2 separate regions of the Homo sapiens genome follow, and region 2 is linked to region 1. The links come from fine-mapping of genetic effects on gene expression. Tissue or cell type: whole blood. Region 1 holds a variant in brackets; the other region holds the start of a gene. All regions are shown on one strand. Distances are between the middles of the regions.

What was found. PIP is the estimated chance that this variant, and not a neighbour inherited with it, causes the effect.
Region 2: SYTL1 starts here. The variant in region 1 is fine-mapped to the expression of SYTL1 in whole blood (TOPMed, PIP above 0.99).

The regions. Positions count from the first base shown.
Region 1 is chr1:27,204,992-27,213,092 of GRCh38, reverse strand. It overlaps the pseudogene NPM1P39 and the pseudogene SNRPEP7. Among named protein-coding and RNA genes, the nearest start is that of WDTC1-DT, 25 kb to the left of the region's middle. The variant T/C (reference allele first, on the strand shown) is at 3,052.
Region 2 is chr1:27,338,524-27,346,624 of GRCh38, reverse strand. SYTL1 (synaptotagmin like 1) reads right to left here and starts at 4,603. Exons shown (of 15, transcript NM_001193308.2): 1 at 4,475-4,603; 2 at 1,100-1,328. The coding sequence starts at 1,290. RefSeq lists enhancers at 3,263-3,352, 3,351-3,968, 4,143-4,192, 4,723-4,982.

The sequences.
Region 1 (8,101 bases):
AGTGTTAATGACCATAACGTGGACCCTGTGAGAATCTATTGGTTTGGAAAAGAAGATGATGAGTTTGCTTTGGAAAGGGTGAATTAGAAATTTGGGCCGGGCACGGTAGCTCAAGCCCGTAATCCCAGCACTTTGGGAGGCCAAGGTGGGCAGATCACGAGGTCAGGAAATCGAGACCATCCTGGCTAACACGGTGAAAACCTGTCTCTACTAAAAATACAAAAAAAAATTAGCTGGGCATGGTGGTGAGCACCTGTAGTCCCAGCTACTCGGGAGGCTGAGGCAGGAGAATGGTGTGTACCTGGGAGGTGGAGCTTGCAGTGAGCTGAGATTGCACCACTGCGCTCCAGCCTGGGCAACAGAGCAAGACTCCGCCTCAAAAAAAAAAAAAAAAGAAAAGAAATTTGGCAGAAACATTTAGACAAAGATGTCCTGTAGTCCATTCCTCCAAGACCTTTTCAGTGGGTCTGCAAAGTCAAAACAATATCCATAATAGTGCTAAAAAGTTATTTGCCTTTTCCACAGTGGTTCTCTCATGAAGGTACAGTGGAGTTTTCCAGAGGCTACAAGACAAGTGATTATATCAATCTCATGACTAATGGTATCTGTGCCTGAGTATTCCTGTGAAATTTTTTCAGTTTTAATTCCAGTATGGTAAATATCAATAGACATAATCTACAAAAAACAGACATTTTTGGAGGGTTCTCAATAATTTTTAAGATTGTAAAGGGGTCTTGGGACCACAAAGTTTCAGATGCTCTGCTAGTCAACAGTTTTCGACCTCTTTAACAATGTCTTACAAAGAGAAATCCATTTTACATTGTGACCCAGTATCCACGTATATATGCAGATGTGTAATTGAATAAGAGTCTCACAAAACGGTATTCTGGTGCACTATTTGGGATGCACCGGGTGTTTTCTATTTCGTCAAAAAAATTAAATTGCTGATAATGGCTCACTAAATTGATTTCATGACCTGCTAATGAATAATGACCTGCAACTTGAAAAACCCTGCTCTAGGGTATAGATGAGTGGAAATATGGAAGGAAGCTGGAGCATGAGGAGGAGCCATTCCCCACAGAATGTGGTATACACTTCATATTTGTGGAGGAAGTGGATGGATGCATGGTTCCTTGAGTTTCCAGTTCTCCAACTGTGTAACCTTTGCAAAAAGTTAGAATGTTATTGTGAGGATCAAATTTTAAAAATGCAGGTGAAGTCTCTTTGTATACCGTAAAATACTACACAGAGAAGAGGGATTGCTGTTAGAAGAAGATGATAGAAAGTCTAGGCCGGGCGTGGTGGCTCACGCCTGTAATTCCAGCACTTTTTGGGAGGCCAAGGCGGGCAGATCACCTGAGATTGGGAGTTCGAGGCCAGCCTGACCAACATGGAGTAACACCATCTCCACTAAAAATACAAAATTAGCCGGGTGTGGTGGCGCACACTGGTAATCTCAGCTTCTCGGGAGGCTGAGGCAGCAGAATCGCTTGAACCCAGGAGGCGGAGGTTGTGGTGAGCTGAGATTGCACCGTTGCACTCCAGCCTGGGCAACAAGAGCGAAACTCCGTCTCAAAAAAAAAAAAAAGAAAAGAAAAAAAAGAAATATCAACCCAGTTGTTTTCTTGACTTTGTTTTAGAATGAATCCCTTCTGCATCATCTAATACAAGGTTTATATATTCATCAAAACCAATGATACAGCCTTCTATCCGCATATTCACTTGCTCATAGAGCCATACCTGAATCCGGGATCTGTTTTGTAAATATCTGAAGAGAGGTTGATGGGCTGTACCATAACCTTCTGCACTTTCTGGCCCTGGCTGCGGTACACCGAAATGAAATCTCACAAAGAGGACACTGACCCACACGCTACCTCAGAGAGCAACTTCCAGAATAATAACTAACATTTCTTGAGTACTTACTGTTTGCCTGGTATGGTGCTAAACGTCAGTAATAGATGTTTAACTCATTTAATCCTTACCACGGTTTTATTGTGTGGGCACCGTCATGGATTGTCATTTACATACAAGGAAACTGAGGCTCAGAGAGCTAAGATAATTTACAAAGTTACGTAGTATAGTGGACTTTATTTTCTTTCTTTCTTTCTTTTTTTGTTTTGTTTTGTTTTGTTTTTTATAGATATGGGGTCTTGCTATGTTACCCAGGCTGGTTTTAAACTCCTAGGCTCAAGCGATCCTCCTGCCTCAGCCTCCCAAAGTGCTGAGGCACCATGCCCAGTCCCAGACTTCAAATTTTTGTTAGCTTGTTTTTCTATCCAGCATCTGATCTCTTTTCTTCTTTGAAGAACACCTGGATTTTCCTTAAGGGTCCATGCCTCCCACACATTCAGTCCACGAGGTTTGGGGAACTTGGCTTCACCTCCTGGATTCTAGGCTGCATATGTAAGTTTCCTACAACAATGGCAAAGAGGTATCTCTTTCCTCTGGGCTGGTAGCTATGAGGATATAACCCTGGAGCTACCGTAGCCACCTTGCCAATGCTGGGTGGGAGGTCACCTGAGGACAGATCAACGCAGAGCAGAGCTGCGATGTTGCAGGGTGGGAGGTGCAGGAGGGAGCAAAGGAGAGAGATAGAGAGAGCTGATGACAAACTTTGAGCTCTCAGATCCACCCTGAAGACAGATACCCATGAACTTTTTAGTTAGAAGAGCCAGGACATTCCCTTTTATGCTTAAGTCAGTTAATTTAATTTAGTTATTTAACAAACACTTATGCAGAACTTACTAAGTGCCAAGAACTATTGTAGGCACTATACAAATATCAACTAATTTAGTCTTCATGACAACCCTATGAAAGGAGGTAATATAATTATTTTCATTTTATTTATTTATTATTTATTTATTTATTTGATACAGAGTCTCTCTCTCCCTCTGTCACCCAGGCTGGAGTGCAGTGGTGTAATCATGGCTCTGCCACCTGGATCTCTTGGGGTCAAGCGATCGCTCCAACTTAGCCTCCTGAGTAGCTTAGGACTACAGGTGTGTGCTATGATGCCTGGCCTTTTTTTTTTTTAACTTTCTTTTTCTCTCT[T/C]TTTTTTTCTTTTTTTAGAAAAGGAGTCTCACAATGTTGCCCAGGCTGATCTCAAACTCCTGAGCTCAAGTGATCTTCTTGGCTTGCCCTCCCAAAAGATTACAAGCATGAGACAGTGCACCTGGCCATAATTTATTTTTTAAATTTTGTATAGAGACAAGGGTCTCGCTATGTTGCCAGGGCTGGTCTCGAACTCCTGGTCTCAAGCAATCCTCCTACCTTGGCCTTCCGAAGTGCTAGGATTACAAGCATGAGCCACCATGCCCAGCCTATTTTCATTTTAAAGATGAGAAAACTGAGGCACAGGGAAGCTAAATAACTTGCCTGGGTCTTTGTTGGGATGTTTACTTTTGGAAACTAGCCAGGATTTGCTCTCGTTCCAGATCCCAGGCGCTGAATCCTTTGCCAGTATTTCTTAAACGCTCCTCATTTACCTTCCATCTTTATCATTATGACCATAGTCACAGACCTTCTACCAGGGCATCCAATCTTTTGGCTTCCTGGGCCATACTGGAAGAAGAAGAATTGTCTTGGGCCACACTAACTAAACTAAACACTAACTAAAATACACTAATGATAGCTGATGAGCTTAAAAAACAAAAACAAAAACAAAAAACTGTCACCCAAGCTGGAATGCGGTGGTGTGATCTCAACTCACTGCAATCTCTGCCCCCTGGGTTCAAGTGATTCTCCTGCCTCAGCCTCCCGAGTAGCTGGGATTACAGGCGCCTGCCACTGCACTTGGCTATTTTTTGTATGTTTAGTAGAGACGGGGTTTCACCATCTTGGCCAGGCTGGTCTCGAACTCCTGACCTCGTGATCCGCCTGCCTTGGCCTCCCAAAGTGCTGGGATTACAGGCATGAGCTACCGTGCCTGGCCTAAAATCTCATAATATTTTAAGAAAATTTATGAATTTGTGTTGGGCCGCATTCAAAGCCATTGTGGGCCGTATGCAGCTCACAGGACACAGGTCGCAAGTTGTACAAGTTATTGTTTTTTTTGAGACAGAGTCTCGCTGTGTTGCCCAGGCTGGAGTGCAGTGGCTCAATATCAGCTCATTGCAACCTCCGCCTCCCAGGTTCAAGCGATTCTCCTGCCTCAGCCTCCTAAGTAGCTGGGATTACAGGCACCCACCATCACGCCCGGCTAATTTTTGTATTTTTAGTTGAGATGGGGTTTCACCATGTTGGCCAGGCTGATCTCGAACTCCTGACCTCAGGTGATCCACCCGTCATGGCCTCTCAAAGTACTGGGATTACAGGCATGAGCCACCGCACCTGGCCTGACATTAACTTTTTTTTTTTTTTTTACTTTATTAAAATATTGAGTTTTATTTCACAGGCATATTTTTGTCTTCCCACAATTTCCATGTCTGACCACCGCTACTACTATGTCCTATCATAACATTCCATACATATTTAAAACCAAGCAAAGGGTGAGTTCCATCTTTAAAAACTAAACAGGCATTTTGGACAACACATTCTTGGCAATGGAACCTGGACAACATTTATCAAACACGGTAGGGAAAGTTCTCACTCTGCATTATAAAAAGGACAGCCATGTGACTTTATAGCAGCATGCTGCTATAAAGTCACATGCACACGTATGTTTATTGTGGCACTATTCACAACAGCAAAGACTTGGAACCAACCCAAATGTCCAACAATGATAAACTGGATTAAGAAAATCTGGCACATATACACCACGGAATACTATGCAGCAATAAAAAATGATGAGTTCATGTCCTTTGTAGGGACATGGATGAAGCTGGAAACCATCATTCTCAGCAAACTATCGCAGGGACAAAAAACCAAGCACCGCATGTTCTCACTCATAGGTGGGAATTGAACAATGAGAACACATGGACGCAGGAAGGGGAACGTCACACACTGGGGACTGTGGTGGGGTGGGGGCAGGGGGGAGGGATAGCATTAGGAGATATACCTAATGCTAAATGACGAGGTAATGGGTGCAGCACACCAACATGGCACATGTATACATATGTAACAAACCTGCACGTTGTGCACATGTACCCTAAAACTTAAAGTATAATAGTAATAAAATTAAAAAAAACTTTAATGGAAAAAAAGATTTTATTCAAATTAAGTGAAATATTTTCTGTATAAAATAAATTTTGCAATTGCCAAACAAAAGTAAAAAAAAAAAAAAAGGACAGCCAGATATCAACTGTTACAGAAATGAAATATGATGGAAAATTTTTAACAAATTGTTGAAACTATTTTCTTAAGGAGACTTCCTCCACTGCCAGAGATCTTGAATAGCCTCTTGGTCAGTCATCCAGAAGCAATTCTTCACAAAATTGATGAACTCGGCTTCCACTTTGGGAAGAGAACCCCCTTTTTCTATACTTGCTTGCATTTTTGCTTTAATGTCTTCTACAGAACTAGATCCTTTTGGTGTTTTAGGAGTTTTTTCCTGTGTTTTGAAGGATTCTTGTCCTTTTGATCTTGGTGCTGATGATGGTTTTGAGTCTTTTCCATTCTGATTTGACTTGTGTGCATTTTTGGCTGGAGTATCTCATATAGATTTCTTCACTGGCACTTTTTCTTCAGCTTCCTCATCATCAAAATCATCATCATCATCATCATCATCATCATCATCATCTTCATCAACAGCAAGTTTTACTTTTTTCTGTGGAACCTTGCTACCACCTCCAGGGGCAGACCGCTTTCCAGATATACTTAAGAGTTTCACATCCTCCTCCTCTTCATCTTCTGACTCTGCATCTTCCTCCACAGCTACTAAGTGCTGTCCACTAATATGCACTGGCCCTGAACCACACTTAAATCTTAAGACCACTGGTGGTGTTATTTCAAAGCCCCCAAGGGAAACTGTTGGCTGTGCAGACATTTTCAAAGTTGCCAGTGTTACTTTAATTGGACTGCCTTTGTAATTCATTGCCTCTGCTTCAACAATGTGCAATTCATCCTTTGTACCAGCCCCTAAACTGACCGTTCTTAAAGATAACTGGTGCTCATTTTCATCATTATCCACCTTAAAGTGATCATCTTTGTCAGCCTTTAGTTCACAACCGAAAAGATAGTTCTGGGGCCTCAGGGGGCTCATGTCCATGTCCATCGAATCTTCTATTGGGTGGCGGCACACACTTAGGTGGGACAGAAGGCAGACGGAGATAAATGAACGCTGCTCAAGAGAACAGCCGCTCAGGATGGAATCATACCAGGAGACATTAACTATTAACATGTAAAATGTTTATCCATGTGACACCTAAAATTGCTGTGAGTAGTCCTGCCCCACTGTGTTGCCTTCCACTTCATGTCACTGATGCTTAGTTTCTTCGTCTTTATAGGGCTAAGCATACGTCCCTCACAGGACTGTTGTTTGAAACAAATGAGGAAAGAACTGAGGCATCGCTTTGTCGCTTATAAAGCATTAAATAGAAGGGAGGCACCATAGCTGTTAAGATGATACACTTCCTCAGCCCAAGAATGAGGATGTTGGTTTTTGACCTCGTAAGCCTCATTTTCTACCAGTCTCCTCTTGGCTAGCCTTACCAGGCTTCTTTTCTGTCTTAGGGTGGGCCCTGCCTTCTCTCACCGGAAGATTTTTGCTGAAGCATTCTCCCACACTGAAACACTCTTCCCTCTGTGGTAGATTGTGCTTTCCTAAAACGGCCATGGCAATATTTCTGCTATTCCAGAATCTTGCCGCTTCCTCATCAAGAGATGGAGTCTGTTTTTGTTTCCCCTCCCCTTGAAATGGAATGGGACTCTTATTGACCGCCTCAACAACTAGAATGCAGGAGACAGAATGCCGAGTGACTACTGAAGTTGGGTCATAAAAGGTGATACTACTTCTGCCTGAGTCTCTTTCTTGGGATGTTTGCCCTTGGAACCTAGTCCTGTGCTGAGGAAGCCCAAACTGGCCCACGTGGAGCGATCACTCAAAGAAGCCCACGTGCAGAGGAGCTGAGGCCCCTAGCCAACAGCGGACATCAACCACCACCTTTAGATGATTCCAGGTTTCTGCCTTTAAGTGCTCCAGATAGTCCCCAGACACTGGTGCAGAGATAAGCCACCTGTGGTGTCTTGCCTGAATTCCTGACCCAGGGAACTCGTGATTGTAATAAACGGCTGTTTTATGCCAATAAGCATTGGAGAAATTTGGTATGCACCCATTATAACTAGAACACTTCCTCTCTTTGCCTGGCTGAGTCCTAAGTATCCTGCAGCTCTCAGCTAAAATGCTTCTTCTTTAGGAAGGCCTTTCTTTTTTTTTTTTTTAGATGGAGTCTCACTCTGTCACCCAGGCTGGAGTGCAGGGGTGCGATCTTGGCTCACCACAACCTCTGCCTCCCGGGTTCAAGCAATTCTCCTGCCTCAGCCTCCCGAGTAGCTGGGATTACAGGCACCCGCCACCATGCCCCGTTAAATTTTTTTTTTTTTTTGTATTTTTAGTAGAGATGGGTTGCACCATTTGGCCAGGCTGGTTTCGAACTCCTGACCTCAAGTGATCCACCCATCTTCGCCTCCCAAAATGCTAGGATTACAGACATGAGCCACCGTGCCTGGCCAGGAAGGCCTTTCTTGAACAGGGCTAGGTTGGTTCCCTAGTCATAATCTCTCACAGTGTCCTCTACTTCCCTTTTGTAACACTTACCACATCTGTTGTGATGTTTTTCCCCACTATCTGCTTTGCCATACTCTGAGCCCCATGAAGGCCACGACCAGGTCTGCCTATAGAATCTCCAGCAGCTAGCCTGGTAGATACGTGTGCATGGGATGCTCTCAGTAAATACTTACGAAGTGAGTGGACGAATGCTTTGCCCCACAGTGCCTGGCACAAATGCTCGGATGCAGCAAGAGATGGACCCATCCTTGAGGGTTTGGGAATTATTTCTGAAAATATTCCTAGCCGGGAGTGGTGGCTCTCGCCTGTAATCCCAGCACTTTGGGAGGCCGAGGCGGGCAGATCACCTGCGGTCAGGAGTTCAAGACCAGCCTGGCCAACATGGTGAAACCCCGTCTCTACTAAAAATACGAAGATTAGCCGGGCATGGTGGCGCAC
Region 2 (8,101 bases), 130 kb before region 1:
ACGCCAGGCTAATTTTTTATATTTTGTAGGAATGGGGTCTCACTGTGTTGTCCAGGCTGGTCTTGAATTCCTGGGCTCAAGCAATCCTCCCGTCTCAGCCTCTCAAAGTGCTAGGATTACAGGCGTTGCCACTATCTCTGGCCAATTCCTCTTAAATCAGTGAAGTAGGACTCCTTAGCCCCATTTTACAGACGACGAGCATGGTGCTCAAGGAGGTCAGGTGAGTTGCCAAGGCTACGTAGCTAGGAAGTGTCTGTCCCCAAACATTGCTTGTAACGCCCATGCTCTTCTACAACTGTGCTCTTCCAGGAAGAAGTACCAGCATAGGCATAGAAGTGAAGAGTGGGTTCAGGGACTGGGGAGCACCTGAGTGGCTGGAGGGGTCACTTTGTGTCTGTGTGTCGGGTCGGAGTTATGGTGAAAGAGGAGATGGTGGGGGCTGGCAAGGACCGACCAGGGAGGCCCAGTGGACCATGCCTAGGAGCTTGCCCTTGATACTGGGGAGCCAGGGGAAGTTTTCAGCGGGGATATTAAGGACGGATCTGGCCAGGCACGGTGGCTCGCGTCTGTAATCCCAGCACTTTGGGAGGCTGAGGCGGGTGGATCATCTGAGATCAGAGGTTCAAGACCAGCTTGGCCAACATGGCGAAAACCCATCTCTACTAAAAATACAAAAATTAGCTGGGCATGGTGGCATGTGCCTATAATCCCAGCTATTTGGGAGGCTGTGGCAGGAGAATCGCTTGAACCCGGAGGGGTGGAGGTTGCAGTGAGCCAAGATTGTGCCACTTCACTCCAGCCTGGGCGAAAAAATGAAACTCTGTCTCAAGAAAAAAAAAAAAAAGCAGACAGATCTGGGGAGCACCAGCTGCAGGAGGTGGGCCCAAGAGGCAAGCCTGGAGGCAGGGAGGCTGGCGAGAAAGCTGGTGCAGTCACCCCTGGAGAAGTGATGAGCTGTGAGCTGGCCAAGGCCAGAGGAGACTGAAGGGCAAAACCAAGAACCACGCAGACATCTGACAGGCAGTGGTGTCGGTAGGGAGCAGGATGGGGGCCACTCAAGCCTCTTGGTGCTCCCCGGCCAGGGTCTGCCCTGCCTTACCTGACCCGCCCCTCCTCCAGCTGGCGCAGGCGGGCATCTCGTTGGAGGACGCCAGCAATGGCCTCCTGCTCCTCCTCTGTCAGGAAGCTGAGGTCCAACAGTCCTTCAGTCTCAGGCTTTGGCCCATGCGCCATGGGGAGGGAGGGCAGAGCCCAAAGCCCCTCTTGCGATGGGTGGCCCCTCTGGGGCATCAGCTGGGGCTGTGCCCCAGCTGGGCACACGGAGCTTCCTGGGGGCAGACCGAGGGTCAGGTCAAGCCCTGCACAAATGCTTGGCACATCCTAGAACCAACAGCCCTTTTCTCCCCAAACACTTGGCCGGGTATGGGTAGGGTGCCACCCCAGGATGGCTGAGCTCAAGGTGGGGTGAGAGACACTCATGCACACATGCATACACTAGCCCTTGAACACACTTGGAGACACAGTGGAAGAAGCAAGAGACACACATGCACACACCCTGAGGTAGGGCCACACAGGACTGCAGCGATGGAACACACAGACACATGTGCACACGCGGGTCCATGTAGGCATAGATATGGTCGCACATGCACACAGACACCTGCATAAAGACAGGCGCATGCACAGCTGTTCCCCCAGAAAGGGCCCTCTGCAGACACAGACCCGGACCCATGCCCACGAGAGACATGCACACACATTCTTTTTTTTTTTTTTTTTTTTTTTTTTGAGGAGTCTTGCTTTGTTGCCCAGGCTGGAGTACAGTGGCACGATCTCATCTCACTGCAACCACTGCCTGACGGGTTCAAACCTCCTGCCTCAGCCTCCTGAGTAGCTGGGATTATAGGCACGCACCATCACGCCCAGCTAATTTTTGTATTTTTAGTAGAGACGGGGTTTGACCATGTTGGCCAGGCTGGCCTCGAACTCCTGACCTCATGATCTGCCAGCCTCAGCCTCCCAAAGTGCTGGGAGTACAGGCGTGAGCCACCACGCCCGGCCCTACACATGTTCTTAAATCTGCACACAGTGGCCAGGCGCGGTGGCTCACGCCTGTAATCCCAACACTTTGGGAGGCCAAGGTGGGCCGATCACCTGAGGTCAGGAGTTCAAGACCAGCCTGGCCAACATGGTGAAACCCCCTTCTCTACTAAAAATACAAAAATTATGGCCAGATACAGTGGCTCACCCCTGTAATCCCAGCACTTTGGGATGCCAAGGCGGGCAGATCACCTGAGGTCAGGAGTTTGAGACCAGCCTGACCAACACGGAGAAACCCCGTCTCTACTAAAAATACAAAATTAGCCGGGCATGGTGGTGCATGCCTTTAATCCCAGCTACTCGGGAGGCTGAGGTGGGAGAATTGCTTGAAACTGGGAGGCAGAGGTTATGGTAAACCGAGATCACACCATTGCACTCCAGCCTGGGCAAAAAGAGTGAAACTCCTCCAAAAAAAATGAAAAGAACAGAACAATTAGCTGGGCATGGTGGTACATGCCTGTAATTCCAGCTACTTGGGAAGCGAGGCAGGAGAATCACTTGAACCCAAGAGAAGGAGGTTGCAGTGAGCTGAGATGGCGCCACTGCACTCCAGCCTGGGCAAGAGTGAGACTCCGTCTCAAAACAAAAACTAACAAAAAAACCTGCACACAGCATATGCACACCAATGGGGATAGGCCCACCCGGATGGGTTCACCTAGACAAGAACAAGTCTGGGGACAAATATGTCCCTCGATAAAGATGTACATAAAAATCATACAGACTTTGGCACACATACATTGCCCGGCTAACTGGGTTGTGAGCTCCTTGGAGGCAGGGAGAGGGAGTCACCCTCAAAGCCATTACTTTGCACACAACAGATGGTTGGTAAAAGTTTGATTAATTAAATGCAGAAATATGCCTGCACACACATGGGAATGCACACATACAACCACCCACCTAGACAGACAGATACACACACACACACACGTACACACACACACATCTGCTCACTCCCCCGCACCAGGAACCTCACAGCCTGGGTCCCCTCCTGCCACCACCTCCACCCTGCCCTGGCCCACTTGGCCTTCCTGTCTGAGGCAACCTCCTCCTCAGCCCACACCCCCAACTTCCTCTCCTGAGGTAACTGCCGCACCCACTCCCACGGAGGCCTCCAACCCAGGGATGCCCCCGCCGCCAGCCCTGCCCTGTTGCCTGGAGCCACAGGGCCCCTCTGTTCTGGCCACACAGTTCTCCCCAGACCAGGCTGGGGTCCCGGCGGTGGAGGCCTAGGCTAGCGCAGCAGCCCATGCTCAGGTACCACAGTGACTCCGGAAAGAAAGCATTTGCCCAGCGCTGAGGGGCATGTAGACGTGGCAAGGGGCCCATGACTTGGTCAGGGCTGTGTCCTGAGCCCACTGGGCGGCCTCTCCTCTCTTCCCCGCCCCTTCCATTGCCACGGCTCCAGGTGGGGCTGAGACCGGCGGAGGCAGCTTGGCGGGCAGGTCCTGGCTTGTGTCCGCCGCCTGCTATGCTCTGTCCCCTCCCAGCTGAGTCAGTGGCCGAGCCCCAGCGATCCCTCTTGACACCCTCAGGAGCAGAAGGCCTCAGCACGGCTGCACGGTGTGCATTCACTCTGTGGATACCTGTGTGCTCCACAACAGCAGTTTCCCTGGACTTCTGTGGCCAACGTGTGAGCCCACGTTCGGCCTCCCCTGTGGATTGGGGTGTGAGCCCACGTTCGGCCTCCCCTGTGGATTGGGGTGTGAGCCCACGTCCCTCTCTGTGCCCTGTTGTGTGGCTGTGTGGGTCCGAGTCTGGTGGGCATGTCTGCGTTGCGTGAGTCTGTGAGCTGTGTAGTTGCTGTGTGTCTTTGTGTCCTGTTGCAGTGTGATGCTGCATGGTGACTATATTGTCTGTGTGGTGTGTTCAGTGACTTTCTAGGTGACAGCGCCGTGTGGGGTGTGTACAGTATGCATTGTGCATTTCCTCCTGTGCTGTATGTGTGACTGGGCTGTGTGCTGTGGGGTGTCCCCTGGTGCCTTGGGGGCCACCAGGTGTGTGTGTCTGAGTGTGGATGGAGGCCGGGGGGACGTTCGGCAGAACTGAGCCTATTTCTGTCCTTCAGGCCTGCCTGAGCTGGGCCATGGGCATCAGCCCAGCGTCCTCAGCAGTGCCCCCTCCCTGAAGTCCCCTCTCCTACCAACCAGAGGCAGAATCTCCTACCAGAGTTAGGTAGGAGTTTGGTCTTCTCTGCTGTTTTGACACGGTGGGACAGACCCATTGGTCAAGAGGAGGGTCTGTCCATCTGTCCAGCTGTTCCAGTTCCAGACATGTGCCCACCTCCCCCAACCCCAAGGTGCTGGAGGGTGCTCAGGATACCAGGTGGCAGTGCCTGCGTCTCTGGACCCTGGCAGGGGACCCTGGCACCGACACGTGTTACCTGTAGGGGTCCAGTATGGGAGGACACCTTCGCAGGTGGCTCCAGCTCCCCTGGCAGCCGAGTTTCAGGGACCGGGAGAAGAGCCGTGAGGGAAGAAGGCTGACTCAACAGGCAGCCCAGCCAGCAGCTGCCCCACACGGAGGAGGAGGAAACACCTCGGCAGGGCCTGATGCAAAACCGGGCCTGGACTCCCAGCGCCCGGGGGTGCGCCCCCGCAGCCGACTGGAGAGGCCCAGCTTGGCCCCAGCTCCACTGAGCAGGCCCTCTAGAACGGGTAGCAGCCCCACCTTGCCCACAACGGGGCTGATAGGAACTCGCTTTGAAAGCAAGTTAGAAACCTTTCTTTTCCAGCCCCAAGGGGAATGGCAGGATGGCAGACTTTGCAGTTAGACCACCCTGTGCAGAGTCCCTGCTCTGCCAGTGGGTGTGTGATGTGACCTTAAGCAGGTCTCTTCCATTTCTTCTGATGCAAACTGTGGGTAGCAGAGTGCAAGGAGCCTATACTAAGGGAAGTGAAAGTGCCCGGTGCGAGCTGGCATAGTCGGGGTGAGGTGTCCCCACTCCAGCATAGCCTAATGCCCACGGCCATCTCAGCAGCTGCTGCCCTCTATATCCACATGCACTTCTGGGACATGCTGGCAGAGCAGCCCTCTCTGTCCCCTCTGCTGTCCTGAGCCCCATCTGTTTGAGGAGGCCTGAACTCTTCTAGTGCCAAGGTGAGGGTCCCACACCCTCTGTCTATGTGGAGCCCCCCTGAACTCACCCCATTCTACACCTAGATTCTGCCCACCCTGAGATTAGAAGGTTTGGGCCCTAGATTACATTGGCTTCAGGACCATGAACCTCCTGGGTTGTCTTGGGCACAAGAGGCCACACCAAAGCTTTCTGACTCCCCCCAAGTCCACTTCACTTCCCATGGCCTGCCCTGGCCCAACCCCCTCCCCTGAACCTAGGGCCATGGATTAAAGATTAGTGGGCTCCTCATAGACCCCTGGGAGAGGCAGGACAAGGGGTGGATTCTAAACAAAACCAGTCTGGGCACAGTGACTCATGCCTGTAATCCCAGTACTTTAAGAGGTCGAGGTGGGCGGATCACTCTAGGACAGGAGTTTGAGACCAGTCTGGCTAATATAGTGAAACCCCGTCTCTACTCAAAATACAAAAATTAACCGGGCATGGTGGCAGGTGCTTGCAGTCCCAGTTACTCGGGAGGCCGAGGCAGGAGAATCGCTTGAACCCAGGAGGCGGAGGTTGCAGTGAGCCGAGATCGCACCACTGCACTCCAGCCTGGGCAACACAGCGAGACTCCGTCTCAGAAAAGCAAACAAGGCTGGGCGTGGTAGCTTACACCTGTAATCCCAGCACTTTGGGAGGCCGAGACGGGTGGATCACGAGGTCAGGAGATCAAGACCATCCTGGCTAACACGGTGAAAACCCATCTCTACTAAAAATACAAAAAAAATTAGCTGGGCGTGGTGGCGGCTGCCTGTAGTCCCAGCTATTTCCCGAGTAGCTGAGGCAGGAGAATGGCATGAACCTGGGAGGTGGAGCTTGCAGTGAGCCGAGATCGCACCACTGCACTCCAGCCTGGGCGACAGAGCGAGACTCCGTCACAAAAAAAAAAAGAAAAGAAAAGAAAAGAAAACTAAACACCCACTCTTCCTTCCTGTAATCAGAACCGACTCCCACCACCACTGAGAGACAGAGGACCCTCCTCCACCTCAGAACCACAGTGGAGGCTTCCCTACTTATTTTTTGCAAATTAATCTTATTTTTCTCATCTGTTAAATGGGGGTAATCTCTCCTTAGAGGGTTTTCACTAAAATTCAGTGAGATCCTTGCAGACTTTTTTTTTTCTTTTTTTTAGATGGAGTCTTGCTCTGTCGCCCAGGCTGGCTTGGCTCACTGCAGCCTCCGCCTCCTGGGTTCAAGTGATTCTCATGCCTCAGCCTCCCGAGTAGCTGGCACTACAGGCGCCCGCCACCACGCCTGGCTAATTTTTGTATTTTGAGTAGAGATGGGGTTTCACCATGTTGGACAGGCTGGGCTCGAACTCCTGGTCTCATGTGATCTGCCTGCCTCAGCCTCCCAAAGTGCTAGGACTACAGGCGTGAGCCACCTTGCCCAGACCCCAGTACTCTTGATTAATGCATTTATGCACCCACACATGCAATACCCATGGAGCAGCTGCTGTGGGACCATTACTGTGATGCTGCCTCCTTCATTAAGGCCCTCAAAATGGAAGGAGAGTGGCCAAGAACATCCACACCCCTTCCTGCCATCCTGGTCCTGGCGCCCCCAAGGATGTTTCTCTGCCCTCCTCTCACCTCCTTAGCAGCTCTTCCTCCTGGAAGGCATGAAACTTCATTATCTGGTCTTCGGGTTTCTAAATTTCCCTTCCTTTCTCTGCTCTCCTGTCCTTCCTATAGCTGTGACTCCCTGACGCTGATACTTCCAGCCATCTCTCCTGCTGTGTCTCAACCTGCATTCCTCTGGCCTCTTCCCCACTTGAAACCTATTTCCAAGTTTCCACCTCTGTAACCAGCCCCCATCATCCTGGCCCCTGGCCTCCTGCTGCTTCCTGCCACCTCCAGATGCTGTCCACACTTCACTCCAGGTGCCCTCCCATCTGTGTGTCTCTGCTGTCCTCCCCCTGCCCAGGTCTCAGTCCCCGCTCAGCCTCTTCTGGAAGCCTCCTCTTCTCCTGCCTCCTTGCGGCCACACAAGGCCACTCTGGCCCTATGTTGCACAACTTTCAAACGTACTTTTCTTTGTCATCCTCTGGTTTGGAAGGTGCCAGCAGACAGCCAGGCCATCCCTCGGGCCCATTCATACATTTCTAAACCAGTCCAGTCCCCTTTAGACACGTCCTGAGATGGAAGTCTCACCACTTCCCAGGACAGCCTGGCCCTCAGCCTGACCCTCAGGATTGCTGCCCTTACTCTGGCTTTCTCCCCTTCGTCACCTATACCCGTAGAGCCTTAGCTGTGGGCTATTTCCTGTCCTTCAACACCCCTGGGCCTTCTGTGCTCCCTGTGGGAATACTTTTCCCCAGCTCCAGGACTAGCTCAGCCTCCTCCAGAGTTCAGTGCCCCTGCGCTGCAGCCAGTCTCTAGGCAACATCCCTCTGTTAAGAGGGACATTAAGAGGCAGGGTCCTAGAGGCCAGCAGATCTGGGTTAAAATCTGGCTCTGCCGCATGGTTCCCTGTGGCCTGGGATCAATGACAATCCCTGTAAGCCTCACTCTCTTCCTTTATGAAGTGGGGACAATAGCCATCTCACAGGCCTGCTGCTGTCAGGAGAGCTTGTTTTTCACCTCCGCGGCCATTCTCCTTTCGCATCACAGCACCTCTCATTTCCACTCCTGTGCTCCAGTGAGGCCATCGCACAGGGTGGCTCTGAGTGGGGGCTCTGGAGCCCAGCTGCTGGGTTTGAACCATAGTTCCACTCTTCCTACCTCTGTGACCCGGAGCAAATCACTACTTCTCTGCTTACTTCTTCATCTGTAAAATGGGATGATGGCACTTACCTTGTTGCAGGGCTGTTGTGAGGCTAAGATGGTATTTTATTACAAGGCCTAGCACAGAGTAAGCACTCGCTAACTGTTGGTGACTTTTTTTTTTTTT